Homo sapiens: one gene and its partners. The protein of the gene in region 1 purifies or fractionates together with the protein of each later gene. This does not show direct contact. Each region holds a gene or a part of one and is shown in the gene's direction. Other genes may lie near its edges. The genes, in order: ZNF276, UTP11, YTHDC2, SPATS2, TENT4B, ARK2N and MTCL3.

The links.
Region 2: the proteins of ZNF276 (region 1) and UTP11 purify together in Homo sapiens (co-immunoprecipitation; one large-scale study listed by IntAct). This does not show direct contact.
Region 3: the proteins of ZNF276 (region 1) and YTHDC2 purify together in Homo sapiens (co-immunoprecipitation; one large-scale study listed by IntAct). This does not show direct contact.
Region 4: the proteins of ZNF276 (region 1) and SPATS2 purify together in Homo sapiens (co-immunoprecipitation; one large-scale study listed by IntAct). This does not show direct contact.
Region 5: the proteins of ZNF276 (region 1) and TENT4B purify together in Homo sapiens (co-immunoprecipitation; one large-scale study listed by IntAct). This does not show direct contact.
Region 6: the proteins of ZNF276 (region 1) and ARK2N purify together in Homo sapiens (co-immunoprecipitation; one large-scale study listed by IntAct). This does not show direct contact.
Region 7: the proteins of ZNF276 (region 1) and MTCL3 purify together in Homo sapiens (affinity purification with mass spectrometry; one large-scale study listed by BioGRID and IntAct). This does not show direct contact.

Annotation. Positions count from the first base shown.
Region 1 is NC_000016.10:89,734,310-89,738,538, forward strand, and holds part of ZNF276 (zinc finger protein 276), read left to right. Parts: intron 1-3,239; exon of another isoform or gene 3,240-3,411; coding exon of another isoform or gene 3,412-3,496; coding exon 3,497-3,596; exon of another isoform or gene 3,597-3,666; coding exon 3,667-3,937; 3' UTR 3,938-4,229. UniProt on the Homo sapiens protein: May be involved in transcriptional regulation.
Region 2 is NC_000001.11:38,010,913-38,015,717, forward strand, and holds the start of UTP11 (probable U3 small nucleolar RNA-associated protein 11), read left to right. Parts: upstream 1-1,821; 5' UTR 1,822-1,890; coding exon 1,891-1,953; intron 1,954-4,805. UniProt on the Homo sapiens protein: Part of the small subunit (SSU) processome, first precursor of the small eukaryotic ribosomal subunit.
Region 3 is NC_000005.10:113,516,393-113,520,621, forward strand, and holds part of YTHDC2 (3'-5' RNA helicase YTHDC2), read left to right. Parts: intron 1-4,229. UniProt on the Homo sapiens protein: 3'-5' RNA helicase that plays a key role in the male and female germline by promoting transition from mitotic to meiotic divisions in stem cells.
Region 4 is NC_000012.12:49,496,259-49,500,487, forward strand, and holds part of SPATS2 (spermatogenesis-associated serine-rich protein 2), read left to right. Parts: intron 1-574; coding exon 575-751; intron 752-3,811; coding exon 3,812-3,947; intron 3,948-4,229.
Region 5 is NC_000016.10:50,222,447-50,226,675, forward strand, and holds part of TENT4B (terminal nucleotidyltransferase 4B), read left to right. Parts: intron 1-727; coding exon 728-941; intron 942-2,210; coding exon 2,211-2,337; intron 2,338-2,444; coding exon 2,445-2,548; intron 2,549-2,651; coding exon 2,652-2,839; intron 2,840-4,229. UniProt on the Homo sapiens protein: Terminal nucleotidyltransferase that catalyzes preferentially the transfer of ATP and GTP on RNA 3' poly(A) tail creating a heterogeneous 3' poly(A) tail leading to mRNAs stabilization by protecting mRNAs from active deadenylation.
Region 6 is NC_000018.10:46,260,305-46,264,262, forward strand, and holds part of ARK2N (protein ARK2N), read left to right. Parts: intron 1-2,624; coding exon 2,625-2,814; 3' UTR 2,815-3,958. UniProt on the Homo sapiens protein: AMPK substrate important for exercise capacity and skeletal muscle function.
Region 7 is NC_000006.12:127,473,781-127,478,009, reverse strand, and holds part of MTCL3 (microtubule cross-linking factor 3 precursor), read left to right. Parts: intron 1-1,541; coding exon 1,542-2,717; intron 2,718-4,229.

The DNA of each region.
Region 1 (4,229 bases):
GCAAATTGGTCATTTTATTTTTTAATTTTTTTTTGAGACGGAGTCCTGCTCTGTTGCCCAGGCTGGAGTGCAGTGGCACCATCTTGGCTCACCACAACCTCTGCCTCCCAGGTTCAATCAATTCTCCCGCCTCAGCCTCCCAAGTAGCTGGGATTACAGGCACCCGCAACCATGCCTGGCTAATTTTTGTAATTTTTGGTAGAGACGGGGTTTCACCATGTTGGCCAGGGTGATCTCTAACTCCTGACCTCAAGTGATCTCAGCCTTCCAAAGTGCAGAGATTACAGGTGTGAGCACTGCACCTGGCCCAAACAAGTGTATCTTAAAAGGCAAGGCAGAAGGCATGAAGGCACACCAGCTCTGGGGAGCTGCCCACGTGGACAGGCGGGAGGCACGTGTGGTTCTGCCTTTTCACATGTGTGTAGGTCGTGTCATTAAGACCGGAGGCGGATGGGGGAATTATGACTGAGGGTGCTGTCTCTGTGCCCGTCTTATTTTTCACAATTTCTATAATGCACAAGTTACTTTTATAATCCAACAAGGATATGTTTTCAAAATGACAAACTTGGCCGGGCGTGGTGGCTCACACCTGTAATCCCAGCACTTTGGGAGGCTGAGGTGGGTGGATCACCTGAGGTCAGCAGTTCAAGACCAGCCTGGCCAACATGGTAAAACCTGGTCTCTACTAAAAATACAAAAATTATCTGGGTGTGGTGGCACACGCCTGTAGGCACAGCTACTTGGGAGGCGGAGGTGGAGGTTGCAGTGAGCCGAGATCACACCACTGCACTCCAGCCTGGGCAACAGTGAGACACTGTCTCAAAAAAAAAACTTGTTTGAACCACGTGGACCCACATATCCATGGTCAGGGACTCGAATCCCTGGTATTCAGAGGGCTGCCTTTTCCTAAGTGCAGGTTCTGTAGGGTCTTTGCAGGGCTAACTTCGGGACTTCAGTATGAGCAGATTTTGGTAAGGGGTGGGGGGGGGCCTGGAACCAGCTGAGGACAACTGTATATTGATCCTTACACACACAGTTTTCCTTGGTTTTGAACTTATTACAGAATAAGAATTATTTATTCTTACTTGAATTTACTGAAGTATTTTTTCATTAGGATTGCTTTTCACTGCTGGGTCATCTCCCGACATGCGGGTTGTTATTTTTTGGGTTCTCCGACATCTCTCCTGATGGCAGCACTTCCTTGGGTTTGGTCCTTCAGACTCTGCATCTGTCCGGTCACTGATGGTCACAACCAGCAGTTCCTTAAAAACCTGAAATTGGGCCGGGTGCAGTGGCTCATGCCTGTAATCGCAGCACTTTGGAGGCTAAGGCAGTAGGATTGCTTGAGGCCAGGATTTTGACACCAGCCTGGGCAACATAGTGAGGCCGTCTTTACCAAAAACTTTTTTTTTAATTTATTGATGGAAACAGTCTCACTCTTATCACCATGGCTGGAGTGCAGTGGCGCGATCTTGGCTCACTGTAACCTCCACCTCCCTAGTTCAAGCAATTCTCCTGTCTCAGCCTCCTGAGTAGCTGGGATTACAGGCATCTGCCACCACGCCGGGGGTGTTTTTTTTTGTTTGTTTGTTTGTTTTTTTGACTGAGTCTTGCTCTTGTCGCCCAGGCTGGGGTGCAGTGGCACAATCTCAGCTCACTGCAAGCTCCTCTTCCTGGGGTAAAGCCATTCTCCTGCCTCAGCCTCCCAAATAGCTGGGACTACAGGTGCTGGCCACCACACCCAACTAATTTTTCGTATTTTCAGTACAGACGGGGTTTCACCACGTTAGTGAGGCTGGTCTCAATCTCCTGACCTTGTGATCCACCTGCCTCGGCCTCCCGAAGTGCTGGGATTATAAGCGTGAGCCATGACGCCTGGGTAATTTTTCTATTTTTAGTAGAGAGGCAGGTTTTGCTATGTTGGCCAGGCTGGTCTCGAGTTCCTGACCTCAGGTGATTTGCCTGCCTTGGCCTCCCAAAGTGCTGGGATTACAGGCATGAGCCACCGTGCCCAGCCCCCAATTTTTTTTTTTTTTTCCGGGACAGTCTGTGTCGCCCAGCCTGGAGTGCAGCTGTGCAATCTCAGCTCACTGCAACCTCCACCTCCTGGGTTCATGCAATTCTGCTGCCTCAGCCTCCCGAGTAGCTGGGACTACAGGTGTGTGCCACCACACCTGGCTAATTTTTGTATTTTTAGTAGAGACAGGGTTTTACCATATTGATTGGGCTGGGGCTGGTCTTGAACTGACTTCATGATCCGCCTGCCTTGGCCTTCCAAAGTGCTGGGATTGAGCACTTTGTGTAAGCCACTGCACCGGCCCCCCAAATTTTTTAAATTACCTGGGTGTGGTGGTGCACACCTGTGGTCCCAGCTACTTGAGAGGTTGAGGCAGGAGGATCACTTAAGCCTGGGAGTTCCAGGCTATAGTGAGCCATGATTGTACCATTGCACTTCAACCTGGGCAACAGAGCAAGACCCTGTCTCCAAAAAAAAAAAAAAAAAAAGAATCCCTTGAACCTGGGAGGTGGAGTTTCCAGTGAGCTGAGATTGGGCTGTTGCACTCCAGCCTGGGCAACAGAGCAAGACTCAAGTCTCAAAAAAAAAGAACAGCGTAGAGTAAAATGCCAAGATAGGGTTTCCCTTCGAAGAGAAAAGTCTGTCTTGTGAAGCGTTTCAGGGCTTGACAGATGTGGAGGCAGCACAGGGTGAGTGGGTCTGCATGTCCACATGTGGCATTTGTGGACTAGCAAGTGAGATCTCTTTGTTCAAGGGTGTGAGAAAGATTTCCAGAGCCAGTACAGCAATGCATACCCCCAGACCCTGGGTATGGACCCCTCTCATATGGAGATGAATTCTAGAGAACAGCCATAGCTGTGACAATCAGTATTCTATACAACCTTAGTGATACGGCTTCCTTTAAGAATTTGTAGGCCAGGCACGGTGGCTCACACATGTAATCCCAGCACTTTGGGAGACCGAGGCAGGCAGATCACAAGGTCAGGAATTCAAGACCAGCCTGGCCAATATGGTGTAAACCCTGTCTCTACTAAAAATACAAAAATCAGCTGGGCGTGGTGGGGGGCGCCTGTAATCCCAGCTACTTGGCAGGCTGAGGCACAAGAATCGCTTGAGCCTGGGAGGCGCAGGTTGCAGTGAGCTGAGATCACGCCACCGCACTGCAGCCTGGGTAACAGAGCGAAACTCCATCTCAAAAAAAAAAAAAGACAAGAATCTGTGGTTAAGGAAATAGCTTTCTGAGGTTTCTTTAAAAACCATCCTGAAATGCACACAGCTGATGAAGCCACGTGACAGTGTATAAAGCAGTTTAAAGATCTTAATAAACGAGGCCCTCATAGGCCCCTTGCTTGGGCCCACTGCATGGTGAACCATGTGCAGAAATGTCTTCCCAGCTGTGATGGTTTCACATTGTCATCGTCGTCCCCCCGGGAGGTTGGAGCATCAGGGGCCTGGACTCACTGGACTCTCCCCTCTCAGAGGTGCGGAACTATATCTGTGACGAATGTGGACAAACCTTCAAGCAGCGGAAGCACCTTCTCGTCCACCAAATGCGACATTCGGGAGCCAAGCCTTTGCAGTAAGTGTGAGTCAGGACCCCCTCCCAGGGCTGTGGCCCTCGCACCTTCTTATCTGCCTCTGTCCCCCAGGTGTGAGGTCTGTGGGTTCCAGTGCAGGCAGCGGGCATCCCTCAAGTACCACATGACCAAACACAAGGCTGAGACTGAGCTGGACTTTGCCTGTGACCAGTGTGGCCGGCGGTTTGAGAAGGCCCACAACCTCAATGTACACATGTCCATGGTGCACCCGCTGACACAGACCCAGGACAAGGCCCTGCCCCTGGAGGCGGAACCACCACCTGGGCCACCGAGCCCCTCTGTGACCACAGAGGGCCAGGCGGTGAAGCCCGAACCCACCTGAGGACGGCAGTGAGGATGAGCACCTCTAGCAGCCTGGACTCCGCAGTGGCTGTGTCAGCCTCACCCTTCGTGTGCACCCGCATGGGAGGGTCGGAGGGTGCTGCCCGCCCTTGGTGCTGGAGGCGGGCTTGGTGTCCGGCTCAAGTAGCCTTCCTCTGCTCTGGGACCAGTGGTTTATTTTCCCGCAAACGCTGAGTGACTCGGGGCCGGACAGTTCATAAATAATTGATTCCTTTCCCCACTAAAGCAGTCGAGGAGATTTGTAATCCACTTTTTAGTGCAACAAGAGCTCC
Region 2 (4,805 bases), on another chromosome or scaffold:
CTGAGGCAGGCGGATCACGAGGTCAGGAGATTGAGACCATCCTGGCTAACACGGTGAAACCCCATCTCTACTAAAAATACAAAAAATTAGCCTGGCGTGGTGGTGGGCACCTGTACTCCCAGCTAGTCAGCAGGCTGAGGCAGGAGAATGGTGTGAATCCGGGAGGCGGAGCTTGCAGTGAGCCGAGATGATGCCACTACACTCCAGCCTGGGCAACAGAGCGAGACTCTGTCTCAAAAAAAAAAACAAAAAACAAAAAACCAACATATTTCGTTTAATCATCAAAACAGTCCTGTGGGTATAGTATTATTATTACCTCAGTTTTACAGATGGGGAGATGGAGGCTCAGTGAATCTAACTTTACCTTGACTGGGGTGGCATCAGAACACACCTCATGGGTCATTACCTTGTACTGCCTCTGATTCGCATATCGTCAACCAGCCATTCCCTTAGGGATGTGAGGGACTCAGAACTTTATAGCTATTGTCATTGGGTGATTTCCTTCTATGCTCTTTACAGATATGACTCCTCAGTTCAACTGTGAGCTCTTGACAGCAATATGAGGCAAGAAGTGTATGTTATTATTATCCTCATTTTATGCTTGAGAAAAATGATGCTCATTAAAGTCAAGAAACCTGCCAAAAGTCACACAGCCTGTAAGTGAATGGCAGAGCCAGTTATGGTTTTAAGGTCTCTTGTCTCTCTATAGAATATTTTTTCCTGTACACTGTTGTAGAGGAGCAAAAAATGGACAGGTCAGATGAATGAAGTTTATATAGTGTCCCAAGTTACAGAAAAGAATAGTGGCATGGGGCCTCTGGGGGCTGGTGGCAACACATATTATGGGAAGGTGAGAGGAGGAAATGTCCTGTTATGGAGATAAAATCTCTCAGGAAGTAATAGTTGTCAGCCCTCTTCTTGACACAGATACCTCACTAAAAATGTAGATTTCCTTTGTAGGTGATAAATTTATTTCTACAAAAGGAAGGACAGCTTTTCAGAGCAACTCCTGTATCTGCAGTTTCTCAGCATAACCAGCTTTAAGAAACAAGCCAGAGAAATATATATTTTGGGGTGGCATATTCTGGCCTCCCACAGTCATATTTTGGAGTGGTGAGTCCTGAGCCCCAACAGTGTTTTTTTTTTTTTTTTTTTTTTTTTTGAGACGGAGTCTCACTCTATTGCCCAGGCTGGAGTGCAATGGCGCCATCTCGACTCACTGCAACCTCTGCCTCCCAGGTTCAAGTGATTCTCCTGCCTCAGCCTCCCGAGTAGCTGGGATTACAGGCGCGCACCACCAAGCACAGCTAATTTTTGTATTTTTTTTAAGTAGAGACGGGGTTTCACCATGTTGGGCAGGCTCCTGACCTCGTGATCCGCCTGCCTTGGCCTCCCAAAGTGCTGGGATTACAGGCGTGAGCCACCGCGCCCAGCCAGCCCCAAAACTGTTAAATCCGTACTGCTCTAGCTTTAAACATACCTTCTAGATACAGCAACCCGTGCCGAGCTGTAAGTGACTGCACATGCGCACACGCTAAGCCCAGCTCAGACGGAGGCCAGTGCCAGCCACGTGTTCCCAGGTGCCCACGCGGGCCAAGCGCGAAGGCGAGATCTGGGTAGCGTGGACAGGCGCTAGCGAATAAGAACTGGCTCTTATAGAGTCACGAGACTATATCTGGGAAACTACACTTCCCAGAAGCAGCCTGCGGTGACTGCCTCTGTTAAATGACGTACTTCCTGAAAGCCGGCTCCGGATAGGTTGCTTAGAGGAAGTAGGCGGTTCTAAACCGCCGGCGGCTAGGCCTATTTCCGGTAGGAATCAGTGGACTTGGCGGCAGAGGCAGTGCGGATCCGGCGTTCTCCACTGATCTTTTCCAAGGCTGTACAGACATGGCGGCGGCTTTTCGGAAGGCGGCTAAGTCCCGGCAGCGGGAACACAGAGAGCGAAGCCAGGTAGGACCATACAGGCCCCACAAGTGCTGGCCTTTGTCGCCATGTGTTACCCTTGCCCCAACCCTGTCGCCACCGTGGGATCCGGGTCCAAACTGTATAGTATATAAATGCACGTAAATGTATGTTAATGACGCTGGCGTGGCTGGGGCGGAGCTTCGTGGGAACGAGTGGAGGGGATTTGTCGTTTCCGTTCTAGGAAAAGCAGGGGTGCCCCCCTTTCCTTGGGGATATAAAACCTGCTCTGGAAGATTTCAGTGTGGTGATTGAGTAAGATGTCTGTCAAGTGCCTGGTCTCTTCTGAGGAGTTGAGGTCAGAGCTCATGTAGGCAACAACTGCTGGGCTGAAATTGGATCCCACGTCTAATGGGCAGCTCCGCCTGCTGCATATGGGGGCCCTGACCGAAGAGACTGTGGTTACTAATGTGGTATCATCATCACGCTGGGCTTGTGGTTCATGAAGATCTGCCATATGTGCTTTTTGTTTAAGCCTTACCCCTTAATGTTGGCCTTTTCCATTCCCATTATACAGATGAGGAAACTGAGGTCCAGAGTGGTGACTTGTCCAGTTACAAACACCAGATTCAGGCAGAGTAAACAGTTCTAGGATTTCTATGGTGGGTGTGTCTGTGTAGGGAGGTTGAGTAGAAATAAGCTTATATGCAGAATCAGTTGATACACTGTCAGGAATCCCGTGCTTAATATCTGATTCAGAAAGGCCCTTAGACATACATATGTGCTCCAACTTAGTTTTACAGATGAGGAAGACAGGGGAAAGAGTTGTGCAGCTGACTGATGGGATAGAACTAAGGCCTCTTAACTACAGTTCAGTCTTCCTGCTTAATAGCATATATCAAACTTTTTTTTTTTGAGATGGAGTCTCACTCTGTTGCCCAGGTTGGAGTGCAGTGGCACGATCTCGCCTCACTACAACCTCCGCCTCCCAGGTTCAAGCGGTTCTCCTGCCTCAGCCTCTCGAGTAGCTGGGACTGCAGGTGCACACTACCATGCCCTGCTAATTTTTGTATTTTTAGTAGAGACGGGGTTTTGTCAGATTGGCCAGGCTGGTCTCGAACTCCTGACCTCTGGTGATCCACCCGCCTTGGCCTCCCAAAGTGCTGGGATTACAGGCGTGAGCCCCTGCACCCGGCCAAAACTATCACCTTTTGAGCACTTACTATATGCTAGGCACAGCCCTGCATGTTTTTACAATTGTCTCATGTAATCCTACAACATCCCTCTGAAGTGGATGTTACCCTCATTCCTCATTTTACAAATGAGGAATCTGGTGCTTAAAGAGATTGAATAGTATATCCAAAGTCACAGTTGTAAGTAGTGGAATTGGATTAGCAGAGAAGACAGAGGGCTTTCAGAGCTGGCTGTGGACATGGCATGGCCATGGCTGAGTAGGAACAGATGGCCTGTGTAGAAGAGGTGAGAAGAAGACCATCCTGAAAAGGTGGGTAAACCGTTGACACAAACGTTCCATATTTGGGTAGTTTGGACTTTATCCTGCAGATCCTTCAGTAGGGCAGCAGGGGAGCTACTGAAGATATTTTGTATGGAGGGTGTATGTGTTATTACGTAAACTATTTCAGATACAATACCAGGTTTCCTTTTGTAATGCGATTGTACATTCAGGTGGACATGAGAGATTTCAAGATTTCTGCCTCACCTCATGTTGTTGCTTTTTTGACCCTTTAGCTTGCTTTCTCTACTCTGTTAACCTCCCTTTGCTGTAATTAAAGTTAAAATTATTAGGGGAGGTTTGGTATTATTTTACTTATGTTTTTGAGATAGTGTCTCCCTCTGTTGCCAAGGCTGGAGTGAGTGGGGCAATCACGGCTCACTTCAGGCTCGACCCCCTCACTCAAGCCATTCTTTTGCCTCAGCTTCCTGAGTAGCTGGGACCACAGGCGTGTACTGTGACACCCAGCTAATTTTATTTTATTTTTTTAATTTGTAGAGATGAGGTCTCACTGTGTTGCCCAGGCTGGTCTCGAACTCCTGGGCTCAAGTGATCTGCCCACCTCAGCTTACCAAAGTGCTAGGATTGCAAGTGTGAGCCTGGCCTTAAATAGTTATTTATTGCATCACTTGAAGGATAAAAGATGAGAAAGATGACTGTTAAAAATCCTACCCAAATTATTATACAAGTTTTTTTTTGTTTGTTTTTTTGAGGCGGAGTCTCGCCCTGTTGCCCAGGCTGGAGTGCGATGGTGTGATCTTGGCCCACTGCAACCTCCGCCTCCCGTGTTCAAGCAATTCTCCCAGCTCAGCCTCTTGAGTAGCTGGGATTACAGGCACCTGCCATCATGCCCGGCTAATTTTTGTATTTTTGTAGAGGTGGAGTTTCACCAGGTTGGCCAGGCTTGTCTTGAACTCCTGACCTCAGATGCCCCACCCACCGTGGCCTCCCAAAGTGCTGGGATTACAGCATGAGCCACTGCACCCGGCCTATTATACAAGTTTAAACACTGGAGAAGTGTATGCATTTCCCAAAATGTTAAGATTATTCGCAACAGAAGAGGACTCAGTCTACTGTGATGGCCCTAGGGAGAATGGGTTCTAGTTTTGGCTCTGCTACTTATTAGTTCTGTGTTCTTGGGCATATCATTCTCTAAACCTCATTCCCTTTATGGAAAACTGGGGTAACAATAGTGCCTGTTTCACCTTCTTTCCAAGATTGTGGTGGGGATTAAATGAAATTGTGTAAGGAGCATAGCACATTGCAAGACCCTGACATATACTAAGTGCTCAACAAATGGTAGTATGTAGAAGGATCATACCAAGATTTAATCCTTATACCTTCCATGCTCTCCAAGTCTACGTCAGAGAAAGTACTTTCTGTCATA
Region 3 (4,229 bases), on another chromosome or scaffold:
TCATTTGAGCCATCCAAATTGAAAAACTCTAAAATTCTGTGGCGCTATTTCATTTTGTTAATAAGGATGGTGGGATCAATGTAAAGGAAGCTTTCTCACTGTTGGTGCTATTGACATTTTGGACTGGATAATTCTTTATTCTGTTTTGTGTACTGTAGGGTGTTTAACAGCATCCATAGCCATTACTACTACATGCCACTAACACTCCTAACCCCAGTTGTGACAACCAGAGATGCTTCTAGAGGTTGCCAAATGTCCTCTGGAGAGCAAAATTGCTCAGGTTGAGAACTACTGACATAGAGGGAAGAAAAGGATAAAATTTCAGCTTACCGGTATGTTTTTAGGTTAGGAAGAGGGAAAACAAAACTTTATTAAGTAAATATATTAATAAATATTCAGATGGTCCCAAAGTGAAAGCAGCTGATGTAGGAATGTCTTGCATATGACTGCCTACTACAGTGATAAATTACTGAGACACGGGATTTAGTTTAGGTGAATGTGCGTTTTGAACATCACTAAGGCCAGTGCTGGAACAGTGGTTAGATTCCTGAATGTGCCCATCTTATAGTCCACTAGGTAGGTAAAAATACTGCACCTGAAAATAAAAATATAGTTCAGTGCCACAATACTTTATCCAGAAACACTTGGGCTAAATATATTTGAGATTCAGATTTTTTAGACTTTAGAAAGGTATTTGGGTATATTTGCAATATGTTGTATAATCTACCTAATAAAATATGGCCATCACCTTTAGTCACATTTATATTTTTGCTGGAAATTCTATGAATATTCACACTGAGACTATTAATAACCTCATGTCAGTTTAATCACGTGATCACATTTGATGTCAAATGAGGTTACTGCAAACTTAAAAGTTTCCAGTTTTTGGCACTGTTTGGGTTTACTAGTTGCAGGTAAGAGGTTTTGGGCCTGTGCTTGGAAACACATGTTATAAATGTACAGTTCTGTAGCTACATCATTTCTATGGTTACATGGGTCTTGCATTCTAAACAGCTAACTTAGAAAAGCAGTCCATTAGAGTAGACTTCCTGTCCTTCTCTTCAGTAGCATAGTCATGTAAGAGCTGATCTGGAATGAATAGATATCTTGGGAAGGAGAATTCAAGAAGGAAGTTATGGAGACAAAAATGGGGAATGCGGAAACATTGAAGAGCCAGAGAAAGAAGAAAAAGGAAAGAGATGCTAAGGGAAGCAAGGCAATCCTGCCTATTTATCCAGTCCCTAATACCTATAACCTTAATGCTTTCAAACCTTCTTACGAAATACCCTAGCTCCTTCTCTCTTTTTTTCATCTTTGAGTAAACTTTGTACTATATTTTCTTAGTGGTCCTTGTGATTTTCAAATGCCTTTTCTTCTTTTCACAAAAAGAAAGAAATCACTTTGAATCTACTTCTCAAATCCTTTCTTTTCATTTGTATGAGAATTTGTACCTGACTTATCCATGAAATTTTCTGTTCACCCTTTGACTTTATTTTATTTTATTTTATTTTTTTGAGATGGAGTCTTGCTCTGTCACCCAGGCTGGAGTGCAGTGGTACAATCTCGGCTCACTGCAAGCTCCACCTCCCGGGTTCACGCCATTCTCCTGCCTCAGCCTCCCAAGTAGCTAGGACTACAGGCGCCCACCACCACGCCCGGCTAATTTTTTGTATTTTCAGTAGAGATGGGGTTTCACTGTGTTAGCCAGGATTGTCTAGATCTCCTGACCTCGTGATCTGCCCGCCTTGGCCTCCCAAAGTGCTGGGATTACAGGCGTGAGCCACTGCACCTGGCGTTTTTTTGTTTTTTTTTTTTTTTGGAGACAAGGTCTTGCTCTGTCACCCAGGCTTTAGTGCAGTGGAATGATGACGGCTCGCTGCTCACTGCAGCCTCCATCTCCCAGGCCCAATCAATCCTCTCACCTCAGCCTCTTGAGTAGCTGGTACTACAGGCATATGCTACCACACCCAACTAATTTTTCTATTTTTTGTAGAGGACAGCATCTCATTATGTTGCTCAGGATGGTCTTGAACTACTGGGCTCAAGCAATCCTCCCTCATTGGCCTCCCAAAGTACTAAGATTACAGACATGAGCCACTGGGCCCAGCCGATTTTTAAAAAAATAATCTATCGTTAACTTTATTGATTCAGTAAGTTAGTTTTCGTGTGTGTGTGTGTGTGTGTGTGTGTGTGTGTGTGTGTGTGTGTATCTGTAGGTGTCTGATATTATAGTTTCTTAGTACCTATTTGAGAGGCCACCTGGTGTAAAGTGCAGAAAGCCTGGATTCTATTTCCAGTCTCTCATTGACTCATTCTCTTATTTGGGCTTTTTATATAAGTTTTAAAAAATAGATTCCAGACTTATTGTGTGATAGCTTTCAATTTTTTTCTGGTCAATTTTTTCTTTTTGATACTCTTTCTTTCAAAATTATGTCATTTGTGATGGATTTTGTTTTTCATCTTCTAAATAATTGAATTTTACCTGCTTTGATTATTTTTATTTTTTAGAGACAGAGTCTTCCTCTGTTGTCCAGGCTGGAGTACAGTGGCACAATCATAGCTCAGTATGGCCTCAAACGCCTAGGCTCAGGCTTTCCTCGCAAGTAGATAGGACCACAGGCATGCACCACCATGCCTGGCTAATTTAAGATTTTTTTTTTTTTAGAGATGGGGTCTTGCTATGTTGCCCAGCCTGGTCTCAAACTCCTGGGCTCAAGTGATCCTCCTGCCTAGGCCGCCCAAAGTATTGGGATTATAGGCCTGAACTAGTGTGCCTTGGCGCTGTTTTGATTATTTTTTGTAATTGCTCATCTTTTAGTGAAAACATTCTTGGAGTAAAAGCCCCATTTTGTGATTTTTAATATATCCTAAAGTTTTCTTTGAAATTCTAGTCAGGTTTCACATACCAAAAATTTCACATCATTATTTACTTTTTTTCCTCAACTTTAAAGGTTGTGTTTAAAGTCACGCTGAGGTCAGTGTGTTTTAGTCCTAAAGGCTCACTTTTCTAAGTCTTTGGCTTGTTTATAATGAAAACAAAATCCCATCTCGATTTTTCTCAGTCCAAGTTAGACAAAAATGGATTTTACAAAATGAACTTTGTTAAAAATCTGTAGAATGGGAAAATATGAAGTATATGAAAGTAGATTTTCCAAGTACAAGTTTCTTCTGTGACTGCTAAGGTCACTGCCTAACAGGTACCAAATAGAGTACCAAAGTACAGTTCTGGAGGTCAGAAGTCCAACAACAGAGGTCCCATGGACTTAAAATCAAGATATCGGCAGGGCTGCATTCCTTGAGGAGGCAGGAGCAAACATTTACTAAGTGTTGTTGTATACTTGTGCTAGGTGCTTTAAATGGATTATCATTTAATCCTAACAATGGTTTTTTAAAAAATTCATTATATAAATTTAATCAAGATTAGAAATTTACTCACACAAATGCCATTCAGAGGTAATTTAAATCAAAGAGTCAATACACATAATTTCTTTTCTTTTTAATTTTATTTTACTTTAAGTTCTGGGATACATGTGCTGAATGTGCAGGTTTGTTACATAGGTATACATGTGCCCTGGTGGTTTGCTGCACCTATCAACTCATCAGCTAGGTTTTAAGCCCTGCATGCATTAGATATTAGTCCTAATGCTCTTCCTTTCCTTTCCCCCTAATCCCTGACAGGCCCCTGTGTGTGATGTTCCCCCGCTATGTCCATGTGTTCTCATTTTTCAACTGCCAGTTATGAGTGAGAACATGTAGTGTTTGGTTTTCTGTTCCTGTGTTAGTTTGCTGAGGATGATGGTTTCCAGCTTCATCGATGTCCCCGCAAAGGACATGAACTTACTCTTTTTTTATGGCTGCACAATAAACATAATTTTATTTTTACTTCAGTTTTTCCTGGAGAATCAAAGAGAGGGACACCTCCTGTTTTTTATGAAACTAGTATAACTTCGCTACCTAACTCAGATAAAGAAGATATTAGAAATGAAAATTATGGGTTTATCTTACTTATGATCATAGATGTAATATGCTAAATAAAATAAAAAATTAGGTCACATTTAAACTGGGTTTTCCCAAGAATAAAGGATTATTGAAAATAAAAGAATCTCTTTTTTTTTTTTTTCTTTAAATGAGAAGGAGTCAGCATTCTCATATTTGGATGAGGGCCTTTGGTTTGGTGCTGATTCATCTCTGGCCTGGTATTTACCACAAGGGAAAGGATAGACCTTGAC
Region 4 (4,229 bases), on another chromosome or scaffold:
AGAGCGTTGTTGTTTGTTTGTTTGTTTGTTTGTTTTGAGAGACCTGGTCTCTCTCTGTTGCCCAAGCTGGTCTTAAACTCCTGTGCTCAAGTGATCCTTCTGCCTCAGCTTCCTGAATACCTGGGATTACTGGCGTGAGCCACTATGCCTGGCCCCTAAAGCTTTTTAAATTCTTCTTTCCTCGAGAGAGTTTAAAACTCTTTTTTTCTTAACATGGAGGCTTGCAGAAGTTGGTGATACTGACTTTCTTTGATTCCTTGTGCCAGACTTACATAGAAACTACCAAGCTACAAAGAAGCCACAGAGCCACAGGGATTGAGCTCCCTATCTAAAGATGTGTTGCCACAGACTCTTCTCTTCATTCCGGACGCCACTTAAGACTAAGCCCGAAGCTGCCGATAGCCATACCCAGCTGATTCTGATCTTTGTTCTATTGTTTCAGTTGATTTTGTTTACAGTCTTTTAAGAGGCATGGTTTTGCCTCAAACATTTTTACCTGTTTTCTTTGTGTACTTAAGAATGACTGGTTTACTCCTAAATTGTGCTCTAAAGTACAGTCCTCTTTCTTGGACAGGATCCATGCTGCAGAATGGTGTCTCTGATTTTGAGACCAAGTCTTTGACTATGCACTCTATTCACAATTCTCAACAACCCAGGAATGCTGCCAAATCTCTCTCAAGACCTACCACAGAAACTCAGTTTTCAAATATGGGGATGGAAGATGTTCCCCTCGCCACCAGTAAAAAGCTAAGTAAGTCAGAGGCCCACCTGTGAGAGAAAATGAAAAATCTGTGTTTTTGGCTAAAGAGGGCAAATTATCTCTGTTGCCATAAATAAGGTTTCAGAAGGGCATCAGTTAATATTTTTCCATTTTCCAGACAGTGACTGACTACTCAGCCCTTCCCCTAACCTTTGTGTACACAGTTGGAGTCTGAAAGTAGTTTAAATGCTGTACAATCTACTTACGACGGCACGTTTTGTGAATTAAAGTCAAACTCTACTGCCAGAATGATTTACCTGCTAACATTAACCTGTTTCTTTATTTGCTTTATTGCAACGTTTTGGTGCTATTTCTTTCATTTTTATCTTCTGGTTGACCCAACAAGTAAAAGCTCTACCTTCTCTGACATTGACTTTTTTTTTTTTTTTCCCCCGAGACTGAGTCTCACTTTGTCCCCCAGGCTGGAGTGCAGTGGCGCAGTCTTGGCTCACTGCAAGCTCCGCCTCCCGGGTTCATGCCATTCTCCTGCCTCAGCCTACCAAGTAGCTGGGACTACAGGCGAGTGCCACCATGCCCGGCTATTTTTTTGTATTTTTAGTAGAGATGGGGTTTCGCCGTGTTAGCCAGGATGGTCTCGATCTCCTGACCTCGTGATCCGCCTGTCTCGGCCTCCCAAAGTGCTGGAATTACAGGCGTGAGCCACTGCGCCCAGCCAACATTGACATTTTAAAGAAATATTTTCACTCCTCTTCATAACTTCATGCTCTTACTGAGCTAGAGTCCTCTGACAGACTCTAGCTTAGAAAAAGTAAGGTCATTTTCTCTTAAGTATGTGGCGTTGACTGGTGATAGCTCTTTGCTTAAAAAAAAAAGAAAACTACAATAATCATTTAAACAAACAGCCAGTAATTCAGCAGACAGAGATAATACCCTGTGTTTCCTATATCTGAGTTTCATACATCTAAGCATGGTGGTCCACTCCACTAAACAAATGAAACATAGAAATATAAAGGACACTTGTAATCAGTAGCTCTTTATGGAATTATTTATTACACATGAGCCAAATTTTAATTAGGTAAGCTCCCCTTTTTCATTGTTCTGGTAGCCCTCAGCCTGTTGCAGATCAGCAGGTTTGAGACTATCCAATCAAGCCAAAAAAAAAAAAAATATATATATATATATATATATATGCGCACAAGGCTTGAAAGCTTTTAGGTGGATTCTAAAAAATAAAATCAAGTTGAGATGAGGAAGAATTTAAATAAAAAAATTGGAAATGCATATCTTGGCATAGTTACAAACTTTTTAGATCCATGTTTCCAGCAATCAATTATATATGTAATTTGGGGATTGGTGAATATAGAAAGGTAAATAGAACTCTTGGAAATTGGTTAAAATGTGTTGAGTAGGTAAATGCAGTCCATCCTTTTCTACAAAGCTGGCTTCCTCATATATACAGTGCTTTGAAGTGTACTATACAGACAGAACATTTTAATTTTGTAATGTCCACATGGTGAATTATATTCTATTAAATCCTGTAACTTAAGGAATTTTGAAAATTTGGTACCTTTTTTAAAGTCTTTTTTCTCTGTGTGTTTCATTTCATTTTGGATAGTTTGTAAAACTGCTGTCTTCAACTGTATTCATCTTTTGTTAACAGTTTCTATTCTGCTGTTAATTCTATGCAGTATATGTCTCTGGCATTGTTTTATTTGTCTCTAGAAGTTCAACTGGGGTCTTTTAAGATATCTTCCATATCTCTTCTTACCACGCTTATGCTTTCCTCTACCTTCTTGAACATATGGTATCTATTTTTTTTTTTTTTTTTTTTGAGATGGAGTTTCACTCTTGTCACCCAGGCTGGAGTGCAATGGTGTGATTTCAGCTCACTGAAACCTCCGCCTCCCAGTGATTCTCCTGCCTCAGCCTCCCGAGTAGCTGGGATTACAGGTGCGTGCCACCACACCCAGCTAATTTTGTATTTTTAGTAGAGACAGGGTTTCACCATGCTGGCCAGGCTGGTCTTGAACTCCTGGCCTCAGGTGATCCACCCATCTTGGCCTCCCAAAGTGCTGGGATTACAGGCGTGAGCCACCACACCTGGCCCTATAGTATCTAATTATAATAGCTGTTTGATGTCCTTTTCTACTCAATTCTATCATCTGTGTCATTTCCGCATCTGCCTCTGTGATTGATTTTTTCTCTTACTTATAGGTCATATTTTTCTGTTTCTTTTAAGCTTTTTTAGGTGGGACTAGAGCAGCCTTTAGTCTAGAAATAATTTTGCCCTGTTGCTGAGGCAGTATCCTTCCAACTACTCTGCCTGCCATATATTGTGAGGTTTTTCCACTCTGGCTGGTGTGAGCACAAACTGTCCCTGGCCTGGTGAGCTCTGGGGATTGTTCTGCCTGGTTGTTTTGTTTTGTTTTGTTTTGTTTTGTTTTGTTTTGTTTTGTTTTGTTTTTTGGTGGTTCTTTGGTTTTGTTTTGTTTTTTTTTTGCCTGTTGTCTTTCCAGTCTTGGGTAGTTTCTTTATACTCATGCACTGGTCCACACTCAGAATCCTCTGTGGATCTCCGTGCAGCTCTCTCATGTGTGTAGCTCTTTCCTCACCAATACTCTGCCCCAGAATTTCAGCCATCTTGGCCTTTCCAAATTCCCAACTTTGTCCCTTCAATTCAGGGGGTCCACCAGGCTGTTGAGGATTTCTCCTCCCTGCATTGTAGCCTAGAAACTATTGAGGCAGCAAGTTGGGGCAATCATAGGCCTCACTTCATTTGTTTCTGTTGTCTCGGGAAAAGTACTACCTGTTACACATTGTCTGAAAACCATTGTTTCATATATTTTGTCTTTGTATGTTTTTAGTTGTTTAAGATAGAAGAATAAATCCAATTATTATTATTCCATCTTGACCAGGATCCTTTTTTTTCCAAAAATCTATAAAAACATGTTTTTCTCATTGGGGAAGGTGGTTATTTAGGAAAGATTCTTAGTCTACATGACATTTGGCTTTGGTGTTCAGATCCGACTTTCAAGTTACCTATATAATTATTCTTTTTTTTTTTTTAATATTTCGGTTTTTTTCCCCAAGGTTCCAATATTGAAAAATCTGTAAAAGACCTCCAGCGCTGCACAGTGTCTCTTGCACGGTATCGAGTTGTAGTTAAAGAAGAGATGGATGCCTCCATTAAGAAAATGAAACAAGCCTTTGCTGAATTGGAGAGCTGGTAATTTAAGCTGCATTTGATATCAGTAGCATAAAAATGATCATATATAAATATAAAGATGGTCAGCCATTCCCCAAGTTCATTCATTCATGACTAACTACATAGTAGGAGAGACTTATAAATCCTATGGTATATTTAGCTTTCTGCTTTGTTCTATTTCTCTTGGTCACAGTGTGAGAATGGTACAGATAACTCACAATGCTCTAGAAATGAGCTGGAGTTTAATATTGTTTGGAAAGGGACACATAATTATAGAGTAGATCATATACTTTAAAGTCTCCT
Region 5 (4,229 bases), about 40 Mb from region 1:
GGTATAGCATGCTAGTGCACACTAAAAGCAAAAGTGATCAATCAGCTGGGAAACATTTTGGAAAAAATCGAAATCAACCTGTAATTGCATTGCTTTCCTTGATTACTTAACGGCTTTTCCCTTTAAACTGGGTACATTTTATCATTTAGCAAATATGTATTTTTAAATTCCTATGAAAGAATATTTTTGGTTTTAAATCCCATACATTCTAGTATTTTTGAGACTTTTCACTGCAAATTTTAACATGCAAAATGTACGGCCTGGTTTCCATAAGCATAAATAGTATAAATGCCAACAATAAGAATGTCTTCTAAGCAGCTAAATCTTGTAAGTTTAGTTGGAATTGAGACCAGCTATTTGGGTAAGCGAATTAGAGTCTTAGTATTGTAAGTGGGTATGTTTATGTGGCACAGGGTTGCCAACTGCCTGAGTCTATTCGTGAGTCAGAACGACTTTGCTGATGTGTTGGGCCAAGCCAGCCCTGGTTGGCAGCCTGGTGCAGCCGTAAAATTCAGCCTTACAAACAGTCTCCCGCCATTCCCGCACCATGGGACTTTAGTGTTGTGTGTAACAACAGTATAACCTGCTGTTAGCCCATTATCAACTGACTGCTATGCTAAACCAAAATTATAATAATATTGCTTGTAGAAGTTAGAATATAATTTATTCCCCCTCTCCTTGATAATTTAGCAAAAATCCAATATAATTTCTTCTTTTCTGCTTTTAGTTACATCCCAGGGAAGATGCTTGCATCCCCAATACAAACTATGGTGTTCTCTTAATAGAATTTTTTGAATTATATGGACGACACTTCAATTATTTAAAGACTGGCATCCGGATAAAGGATGGTGGTTCATATGTGGCCAAAGATGAAGTACAGAAAAATATGCTAGATGGCTACAGGCCATCAATGCTTTATATCGAAGATCCTTTACAACCAGGTATTGAAATTAGGTAAATTTGTGGGCATTCAAAGAGAGGGCACTGTCAGTCACCTTATTATACTTTAAATTCTCTTTAGATGAAAAATGAAGGAACAACTTCTAATTGTTATTCTTTTTTCATCGAAATATTTCATGAGCAAACATACTAAAATAAACAGACACAGACAATAGAAAAACACCTTGGAGACTTCCAGATAAGTAGGGAGTAGAATCTGTTTAACCCTAAAAGCATAGTAGAAAAGGCATTCACTTATTTGGATGGGTTCATGTTTGGTGGCTGTTTCTCCTTCTTGGGTCCTTATTGCCTTGATTACAACCAATTGTCAGCAATTAATGAGGCTTTAATGAGATGATTCTGAAGTCCTGAGAGGCAGCAAGCATAGTAATATATCTTTGAATTCATGAGCAGAAGGGTGCAAGGAGACAATGTATTTTCTTTTTGAATTTCTCCTTTCCTGTTTGATTTTGCATGTCTCTTTGTGCTTTTTCCAGCTTCATGTGGGCTTGAAAGTAAGCAGAAAGTAAATTCCTTCCATGCTTTTCTGAAGTTCTGTTTGCTTGCTTGTGTCCTGATTTTTGTGAGCAATATTTTTTCTTGATATAATTGTAAAATAGATTCTGCGTTATTGGACTTCAGTGGAAGTGCTTTTAGTCATTTGCTTTAATGTGTAAACTTTGAAAATGAGTAAGGAAAGGGGGTGAAGAGATAGAGTAGTTGCCTAGGAACCATTTTCTGGCTTATTGAGCTGCCTTATAAACATTAATAGTTCTATGTGTTTATTCATTGAGGAAACATTACATTGATTGGGAGCCTGCTCTGTTCAAAAGTATTGGGCCAAAGGACACGAAGACTTTTCAGCAAGACGATCCTTGCTTTTTAGGGGCTCATAATTTAGAGTGAGAAATAGATATATAGCTAATATAAACCCAAAAAATATAGAAGTATTTCTGATGTAACTTGGGGTTTCACTCTTAGGAGTGAACAGGGCACTATTTCTTTTGTTTGCATAACTGTTTATGTATGGAATGGGATAATTCTTGATGGGCCAGAATACATTCCGGCAACTGATACACCATAATGAAGTACCAACTGCATGATTCACATATTCAGAGACTGGGGAGCTTTGGGGACAGCTCACAGCTCAGCTTCCAGGCACAACTCTGGTGGGATAACTATGGCCCTTGCTCTCCTGGAAGAGAGTCATCAACATTTAGTGCATATTAAGCACAGTCAGGCTTACTATGTTACGTATATTTCTTTTAAAGGTAACGATGTTGGAAGGAGTTCATATGGGGCCATGCAAGTGAAGCAGGCCTTTGATTATGCCTACGTTGTTTTGAGTCATGCTGTATCACCAATAGCAAAGTACTATCCCAACAATGAAACAGAAAGGTAAAAGTTCATCTATAACCAGCCCATTGTGTCAAAATTAGTTGTGGCTTCTTATCTTCAAATTAATGTTATTCCCTCCCTCTCCCTTTCTTTTTAAACACATGCAGCATACTAGGTAGAATAATTAGAGTAACAGATGAAGTTGCCACATATAGAGATTGGATATCAAAGCAGTGGGGCTTGAAGAATAGACCTGAGCCTTCATGCAATGGTAAGATATTTTCCTTGGTCGATTGACTGAGTATTAGAGGCTTTTCTGTGTTGTGTGCGTTTAATGGGAAGAAACGTTTTCCAATCTTTTGCCACTCTTTCAGGAAATGGTGTTACCTTGATAGTAGATACTCAGCAGTTAGATAAATGTAATAATAATCTATCTGAAGAAAATGAAGCCCTTGGAAAATGTAGAAGTAAAACCTCGGAATCTCTTAGTAAACACTCTTCAAACTCTTCATCAGGTCCAGTGTCGTCCTCTTCTGCCACACAGTCCAGCTCTAGTGATGTAGTAAGTATGAAAGCCTCGGCTCTTCTGAACTCAGATGCATGCACGTTCTCTTGCTGGGGTTAACACTGTCTCGAAGGCTAAGGCTACTTCCTTTGCTTACATGTTACTGGGATATTTTAATAACTTTCATGCTTGTACATTTTCTCAACATTTTGTTATGAAAAAGTTCAAGCATATAGTAAAAGTGAACAAATTTTAGTGAGCATTCATGTACTCACCAGTAGATTCTGCTATTAACCTTTTACTTGCTTATGTCATACCTGTCTATCCATCACTCTATCCATTAATTCATCTTATTCTTTGATCCATTTCAAAGTAGATTACAGACATCAGTTCCCCTAGAGTACTGTAGCTTGTGCATCCTTGTAGCCAGACTCCAGTATTTGTTTATTGTTTTTTCCTTTTTTTTTTTTTTGAGACGGGATCTCCCTCTGTCACCCAGGCTGGAGTGCAGTGGTATGATCTCGGCTCACTGCAACCTCCGCCTCCCATGTTCAAACGATTCTCCTGCCTCAACCTCCTGAGTAGCTGGGATTACAGGTGCGTACCACCATACCCAGCTAATTTTTTGTATTTTTAGTAGAGACGGGGTTTCACCATGTTGGTCAGGCTGGTCCTGAACTCCTGATCTTGTGATCCACCCGCCTCAACCTCCTAAATTGCTGGGATTACAGGCATGAGCCACCACACCTGGCCTTTAACGTTTTTCTTTTCTTTTCTTTTCTTTTTTTTGAGACGGAGTCTTGCTCTGTCACCCAGGCTGGAATGTAATGGCATGATCTTCACTCACCTCAACCTTCGCCTCCTGGGTTCAAGCGATTCTCCTGCCTCAGCCTCCTGAGTATCTAGGATTACAGGCATGTGCCACCACACCCAGCTAATTTTTTGTATTTTTAGTAGAGATGGGGTTTCACCATGTTGGCCAGGCTGGTCTCGAATTCCTGACCTCAAGAGATCCACCCGCCTCAGCCTCCCAAAGTGCTGGGATTACAGGCGTGAGCCCAGCTGTTATGACTTTTTAACACCATAGTTAGTTTTGCCTGTTTCAGAATTTCATACAAATGGAACCACATAGAATATAGTCTTGTGTAAGGCTTCTTTCACTCAATTTTTTTTCAGCTTTCTGGTTGAATTTTTTGTTGTTGTTGTTTTGTTTTGTTTTTTGAGACGGAGTCTCGCTCTGTCGCCCAGGCTGGAGTGCAGTGGCGCGATCTTGGCTCACTGCAAGCTCCGCCTCCCGGGTTCATGCCATTCTGCCTCAGCCTCCCAAGTAGCTGGGACTACAGGTGCCCGCCACCACACCCGGCTAATTTTTTGTATTTTTAGTAGAGCCAGGGTTTCACCGTGGTCTTGATCGCCTGACCTCATGATCCGACTGCCTCGGCCTCCC
Region 6 (3,958 bases), on another chromosome or scaffold:
ATTCTCCCTTTGGGAATTCCATGTACAACTATTAATAATTAGAGTTAGGAAAGCTTTTGACCGAAGATAGTATCATCACATTCTCCAGATAATCTAAAATTTTGAAGTAGGAGAAATAGAGAGGGTTAGGGGTTGTTCCATCATCTTAGGCTCTTTGAGGTGCCCAGTGTCCTACTAATAAATTCTCTTCATTGTTTAAAGTAGCCTAAGCTGGTTTTTGGTAACTGGAACCATTTGTAACATAACTTCAGAAGTGATCTATTTTTAGATAGTTGAAGTGCCCTGTCTCCTATTCTCTCTCCTTCAGCCATTCCTCAGTAGGAAATAAGGTCTCTAAACCTCTCACTCTCCTAGTTCTTTTCCTATGCCAGACACTTTCTAAACTCTTCTTTGCCGCTTATTGAATGGCCCTGGGAACCAGGCAGTGCTTCTTTCAGTCAAACATGATGTAGTAACTTCAGGTATAGCCTGAAGAAGGCATTGTTATTCAGTGGAAAATAAACCCTCGAGTGGAGACCTGATTTTACTCCAGTTCTATGCTTAACTTGTTTAAGAGCCTGGATGGTTGTCTTTTGGCCTAGGTTTTTTCTTCTGTATAATAAACAGATTAGATCAGATTTTTTAAAAAGCCACTGCTTGACGTTACATTGTATGATTACTTAGTGAGCAATACAGATAAACAATTGGGACTATATACTTCTTTTACTTCGGAGATATTTTTAGAAATTCTGCCAAAGATTACATTGACTCTCTTTGCCACTCGTTGCCTGAATTCTTACCAGGTTTCTAGCCAGCTTTACTTCAATTAGTGCTTATACAGGTGAGCTTTTGAATTGTCAAGTAACTTTATACTTCTAAATTGTTAGTTTGGGTCTATTTTTGTACTCTGATGATTCTTGTTGTGTTTTGCTGCACCCGATTTAATACACACATCTGTAAAGCAACAACATGATATGGAAAGCATTGGACCCAAAATCAGACCTGTCTTCCTTGGCCTATCACTTTCAAGCATTGTGACTCTGAGCAAATCATGTAACCTGTTTAAGCCTCAGTTTCCCTCTCTGTAGAGTGAGGATAGTAAATTCCATGCTTACCTCATAGGTCTGTCAGAATTGTCCAATGAGATAATATATGTGAAACTGCTTAGTAAAGGTAGTGTTCCGTTGGCCTTCAGTCATCAAAACCATTTCTATAAATGTTGAATGGACTCCTTTGGCTGACATTTTTCCATGACTACATGGTCACTTAATATGAATTTATATAATGGGTTGAACAGATGTGAATTAGACATTGGGCTTTATGTCCCTTATTTTAATGTCCCTATTTATTTCTCTAGCTAATCTTTGAAAAGGTAGTAGCCTCTGGGTTAGTAACTACATAGCCCATCTCTGGACAGATGACGGGCTTCTGGTACTGTAGCAAATTTGCGTTCTGCCCTCTGCTCTGGCCCTGAGAGATCTGTTCTTAGGAATTTTTCTTAGTAAGGGAGAAGTTATCAGATTAAGCCTTTGTAGGAGTAGGGCATGTTTGCAGGAGTTTAAGGGTCCTTGGGGCAGTTTTGCAACTGAATCGTGTCCATTGTTACCCTAATGTTCTTTTGAATCTGGTGGTGTAGGTAGCATTAAACCAAAGCTGAAATTCTCAAGTGGCCCAGCATTATTTGTTGCTTACAGATTGTCAAACAGCTGCTCAGGAGCCACTGTGGTAGTTTAGTGACTAGACTCATGCCACTTGTTACTTCTCACATAAGCTACCTGAGGGCTGGTCAGGAAGTTTAGATGAGAGGACATAGCATTGATCACATGAGTTGCCTGCCTTCCTCTCATTTGAGTCAGAACTTAGTGTTTTGGCCTGGAGGTTCACAATTCTATCATTTGACTGGACTGTGGAATTCAAACTGTCAGTGTTTCTGAAACAATTTTATTTCAGTGAACTCTTGGTGTGACTTGCTAACAAGGCAGTTCTCTCCCTCCGATAGAACCCTTTTAGTGGATCTAAACTGAAGATTCAGCTGTGTTACTTTCACGGAACCAAATTATAAGCGATTCTGTTGAATGAACCAAGTGCTTCTGTTGTGACCTTCAGGACAAGGGAAATTGATCCTTTATTCATGATCTATTACTTACAGACTTTTAGAAATTTAATCTGTGAAAGGGTATTACTGTCACTGTCTTTGAAGGCATTATTACCAATTATAAAGCTTATTTTAAGAACAAGTTTTAACTATTTTTCTTACTGTTTGATTTGTTCAGACTAAGATTGTTTGGGCATCTTAACTTTGTTCTGGATTTATGTGTTGCCCTATCATGAAGATCCCAGAGGTGTAAATGAGTCCAGAGAAACATCCTGTCACCCATGGTCAGTGACACAACTCAGGAGTTTCTGGCTGAGATAAGACCCTTGGCCTTTTTAAGGCTAAACTGAGAGAGGGACCAAGTGGGGTGTGGTGGGGTAGGGAGAGAGGGAGACAGAGATGGAGGGAAGGATATTGATTGTGGGTTTTATGAACTTGCATACTAGGTTTATCTTAGTAAAAATGTTGATAAGTACAACTGAGGTCATATTGTCTTCTGTTTTTCCTGTGGTGGAATTAACCATGCTTTTGTTCTTCATCTCAATTGCAGGTGTGTTCATCCTCGAGGTGGTGTGATTCAGAGTGTTTCTTCATGGAAGCATGGCTCGGGCACGCAGTATGTTAGCACCAGGCAAACACAGTCATGGACTGCTGTGACTCCCCAGCAGACTTGGGCTTCACCAGCAGAAGTTGTTGACCTTACCTTGGATGAGGATAGCAGGCGTAAATACCTACTGTAATACAATGTCACTGTGTTTCCTCTGCACTGTTCCCTTCCACTTCCTCATCCTCTTTGTGACATGGAAGTTCATTGTCATAGCTTCAGCTTCAGAAGCTGTTTGTGGCATTTGTAGGATTCAAACTCATGGAAAATTCCCTCCTCTTCCCCCCTTTTTTTAATTAAAAGAAGTCACTTAGGAAAATAACATCACAGAGAAAAGAATTTCTTCTTTCCCTCAGTAGGAATATAGAATGATGAATTTTATTAGACAACTTTATTTTACTTGGTGACTTTTAATCTTAGGAAACTCTGCCTTCCTTTTAGAATAATATTTTAATTGCCAGGCAAAATGGGTTTCAGTTTTTGAATCTTGTATTTATTTTTCTGTATAATGAAATTAATATCTAGACTTGACCACTATCTGCCCACCCCATTGGCACTCCCATCTTAGGGCATTCGCACACATATCAGTCAGGTCCTTATTGGCACCTAGTAGGGCATGTGCATTTAAAAACTTGTCCTTAAAAATAGAAGACAGAAGTATTAAAATTATATTTTCTTTTATTTTAAGTCTTCTGCCTTCTTTCTTGAGTTTGCTCCTGTTGACTTCCCACAGCACAGATAATTGACATGTCCCTTTGTGTTTATAAATACTACTAAGGTGACCTAGTTGTTCTCCTTGTTGCAATAATTAATAACTCTTTGCAAAATGTCTCCTTTGAGACAGAGGCATTTCAGATAGATACCCACCATGAGGTGTTCTGGGCATCTGAAGGTATTAAGAGTTCAGTGGGAAAAATCTCTCTCCCTCGCCTTTTTTTCTGGTTTAGTCAAATAACGGGTGAACATAGAAACCTGTTGGGAAGAATATGAAAAGTTATGTGGCCTCTGAGGCTACAGGCACTTGCAAATCCGAGAGGAAAGTGCCGTCTTTCATAGCTGGTCTCTGTATAAAGAGTATGTAGCAACAACTGTTTAACATCCGAGATGAAGTGGACCTGATGCTGTATTTGGGTATTTTTCTCCTCTACCTTCTAAAAAAAAATACCATAAGAAGAATCAGAATGTACCATAAGAAATCAGATGCAAAGCACGTTAATGTCATTGGTAAGTTTTACAGAGTCTAAAAGGATTAGCAAAGGGTAGCAGGAGCTTCAGGGAAT
Region 7 (4,229 bases), on another chromosome or scaffold:
GGCAACACATCTTACTTCTTTGATTTTACCACATTGCTCTATTTTTTTTTCTTTTATGCTTCTTTTCTAGAGGCAGCATGTGCAGTGGAAGGAATATGAGTTTGGGACTCAGCCAGAATATAGACTGTGCTCTGTCACTTATTAACTTGTGCACTGCAATGTTAATAAATCTCCCCTATCGGTAAAGGGGAGATAGCATCACCTATCTTGAAGGACTGATATAAGTATTTAATACTATATGGAATGTAATGTTCAGGCTCTGCACACCCAGCAGCTCTCAAACCCTTCATATTCTTCATATTCCCATTAGTAGATAGGAAGACAGAAGACCTGTGCCCTGTTCTCCATCTCTTCCATCTCAAAGGCTCTGTGTGGTATTTACTGAGCATCTCTGGCAGAAGCTCATTATTCTCCTCACCTTCTCACCAGTGGTTGCTCCTTCTTTACCAGAATGCATCTCAAACACAGATGACCGAGTACTGGATAAGGAAAGAATTTTTATTTTTGTTTTTTTAATGAAGAAACCAAAGTTCACAGAAGTTATATGATTGGCTCAAAGTACACACTTAAAAGAGAATTTTGAGAAATTGTCCTTGGGAGAAATGACCTTAGACATAATAACATGCTTCAGTAATATCCCTCAGAGAAAGATTTCCATTCCTCCTTTTGTACTTTTCAATTTAGTTAATGATTGGGCTCTGAGGTTGTCGTAAGAATGTGTGAGAAGAACTTCTATAGTTCCACTATTCTTTTGCCAGGCTTTATCCATTTCAGACTGATGGGAGTACAACCTATTTTAAATGTGATCTAGATGGAAAACTTAACAGTTTCTCCTTGGATGGACCATTCCAATGTCAAACTTTGCTGACTTACAGGCCTCTAAAACAATTTTCCTTTGAATAAAAACAGGGGGCAGATTATTTCCTAAGTGACACAGAAATCAAGAGCCTGAGCATTTGTTTCAGACAGAACTGGATTCAAATTTCACCTTTGTCCTTTGCTATTCATTAGCTGTGTAACCTTCGAACGGTTACTGAACATCTTTAAACCAGGAACTGTAATAACTACTCCTAAGTTTACTCTGAATATTAAATTAGGTTCATATTTGTAAAACACTTTTCAGCACTTGGCTCAGTGTAAGTGACAAAAAAGTGGCCGCAAATGCATATGAACCACATGCTCGTTGAACAGATTTTATATTTATTACTGCAATAATGAAACAAAAGAAACACTGCTGAAATGATCACCAAACAGTTGTATGCAGTTACAACATATAATAATCTCTGAATAGTGATGCCACAGTTATTCTCTTTTCATATTCCTTTTCCTTTTTGCTTCCAGGATGTAACATTGTTCTAATCTTTAATTTGCCAGAGAATTTAAGTGATCTGAAGAAAATACACAGTATCTGCTTCTGTTTCTCTCTGTCATTAAATCTGGATTGCAAGAAAAATTATTTATCCAGGTGTCCTCTTTTGGTTGTTTCCTTGATTTACATAAAAATGATCTCCTATCCTTTTCCCTCTTTTCCCCCAAATGAGGAGGACAATGAAGATCTGAAGTGCCAGCTGCAGTTTGTTAAGGAAGAAGCCGCTTTGATGAGAAAGAAAATGGCCAAGATTGATAAAGAAAAGGACAGATTTGAACACGAGCTCCAGAAGTACAGATCCTTTTATGGGGATCTGGACAGTCCTTTGCCCAAAGGAGAAGCCGGAGGCCCTCCCAGCACTAGGGAGGCCGAGCTCAAGCTACGGCTAAGGCTGGTGGAGGAAGAAGCCAACATCCTGGGCAGGAAAATCGTCGAACTGGAGGTGGAGAACAGAGGCCTGAAGGCGGAACTGGACGACCTTAGGGGCGATGACTTCAACGGCTCGGCCAACCCGCTCATGAGGGAGCAGAGCGAATCCCTGTCGGAGCTGCGGCAGCACCTGCAGCTGGTGGAAGACGAGACGGAGCTGCTGCGGAGGAACGTGGCCGACCTGGAGGAGCAGAACAAGCGCATCACGGCGGAGCTCAACAAGTACAAGTACAAGTCCGGCGGCCACGACAGCGCGCGGCACCACGACAACGCCAAGACCGAGGCCCTGCAGGAGGAGCTGAAGGCGGCGCGCCTGCAGATCAACGAGCTCAGCGGCAAGGTCATGCAGCTGCAGTACGAGAACCGCGTGCTTATGTCCAACATGCAGCGCTACGACCTGGCCTCGCACCTGGGCATCCGCGGCAGCCCCCGCGACAGCGACGCCGAGAGCGACGCGGGCAAGAAGGAGAGCGACGACGACTCGCGGCCTCCGCACCGCAAGCGCGAAGGGCCCATCGGCGGCGAGAGCGACTCGGAGGAGGTGCGCAACATCCGCTGCCTCACGCCCACTCGCTCCTTCTACCCGGCGCCCGGGCCCTGGCCCAAGAGCTTCTCCGATCGGCAGCAGATGAAGGACATCCGCTCGGAGGCCGAGCGCCTGGGCAAGACCATCGACCGGCTCATCGCCGACACGAGCACCATCATCACCGAGGCGCGCATCTACGTGGCCAACGGGGACCTGTTCGGACTCATGGACGAGGAGGACGACGGCAGCCGCATCCGGGAGCACGAGCTGCTCTACCGCATCAACGCTCAGATGAAGGCCTTCCGCAAGGAGCTGCAGACCTTCATCGACCGCCTCGAGGTGCCCAAGTCTGCGGACGACCGCGGCGCCGAGGAGCCCATTTCCGTGAGTCAGGTACAGTTCTGCCTATTGCGAGCCACGGCGGTGGCCAGGCTGGCCCGTGGAGCCGCGTCCCTGGGGGGCGTCTCGGCGCCCGGACTGCCGCGCCCCGCTTGAGGGAAGCCCCCGCTCAGGGCCGCGCTGGGGCCTGAAACCCCCGGCCTCGGCCCACCAGTTCTTCCACACTGTCCTTCTGCAGGGCTGAGGTTTTTGTGACTCCATCACATAGTCACCATTTCTTCCTCTGTTTTGTTTAAAAGGAAAACTGAACACCATTACCCTCAATTGTTGTGGAAAGAGTAACGGATTTTGAGGCACGTTATTATTTTAGAAGGTCAATATTTTTCTCTGTTACTCTGCTAGCAGATGAACTGCAAGATGGTCCTGGATAGGAATATTTAACTGCTGATATGTGGTTTTTGAGCCAAGATCCATATTGAGTTTAGGATTTAAAAAAAATGACTAGACTAGGAGGCCGAGGAGGGTGGATTGCTTGAGCTCAGGAGTTCGAGTCCAGCCTGGTCAGCAAGGCAAGATCCGTCTCTCCAAAACATATGAAAAATTAGCTGGGTGTGGTGGCACGCACCTGTAATCCAAGCTACTCCGGAGGCTGATGTGGGAGGATCACCTGAGCCCAGGCAGGTCGAGGCTGCAGTGAATGGTGATTGCACTACTGCACTCCAGCCTGGGCAAGAGTGAAACCCTGTCTCAAAAAAAAGAAAGAATAAAACTAAAACAGAATTGATGGCAGGGCACTGTGGCTCATGCCTGTAATCCCAGAGGCCAAAGAGGGCAGGAGGTCAGGAGTTCGAGATCAGCCTGGCCAACATGGCGAAACCCGTGTATACTAAAAATACAAAAATTAGCCTGGTGTGGTGGCGCACTCCTGTAATCCCAGCCACTCCGGAGGCTGAAGCAGGAGAATCACTTGAACCCGGGGAGAGGGAGGTTGCAGTGAGCCAAGATTACACCACTGCCCTCCAGCCTAGGCGACAGAGTGAGACTCTGTCTCAATAAAAAAAATTAATTTAATTAAATAAAACAGAACTGATGGATAACTACTGGTAAATGTAGAAACCAGTGGTAAAGAGACATGGTTTTGTGTCTACAACCCCCTGGAAAGGAACAAATGAAAGCCACTTTTTTTTTTTTACCATAAGTTGAAATAACATGATCATTATTTCCAGAGAAAATCACTCTCAGTTGTATAGTGGAGAATCTCAGGACTGGGGAAGGAGTCTATACGGTAGCTTGAAGGCAACACTAATTCAGAGAAATAGTAATAACTATTCCAGAACAGGGAAAACCAGCATTTTTCCTCCATCCTGATTTGTAGAGGCACACCGGATGAATTGGACTGAGCTGCTTTGGCCAGGTATGGTGGCCATTTAAAGACCAATGCATTTTGTCAGAGTTAACCACATGAAAGATAATTTATGAAACAAAACAGGCAATGCTGTTTCCTCTGGCAAGCCTGGTGTCCTGTATCCATTGGAGAACCCACGGAAGTACAACAGCATGCATGGC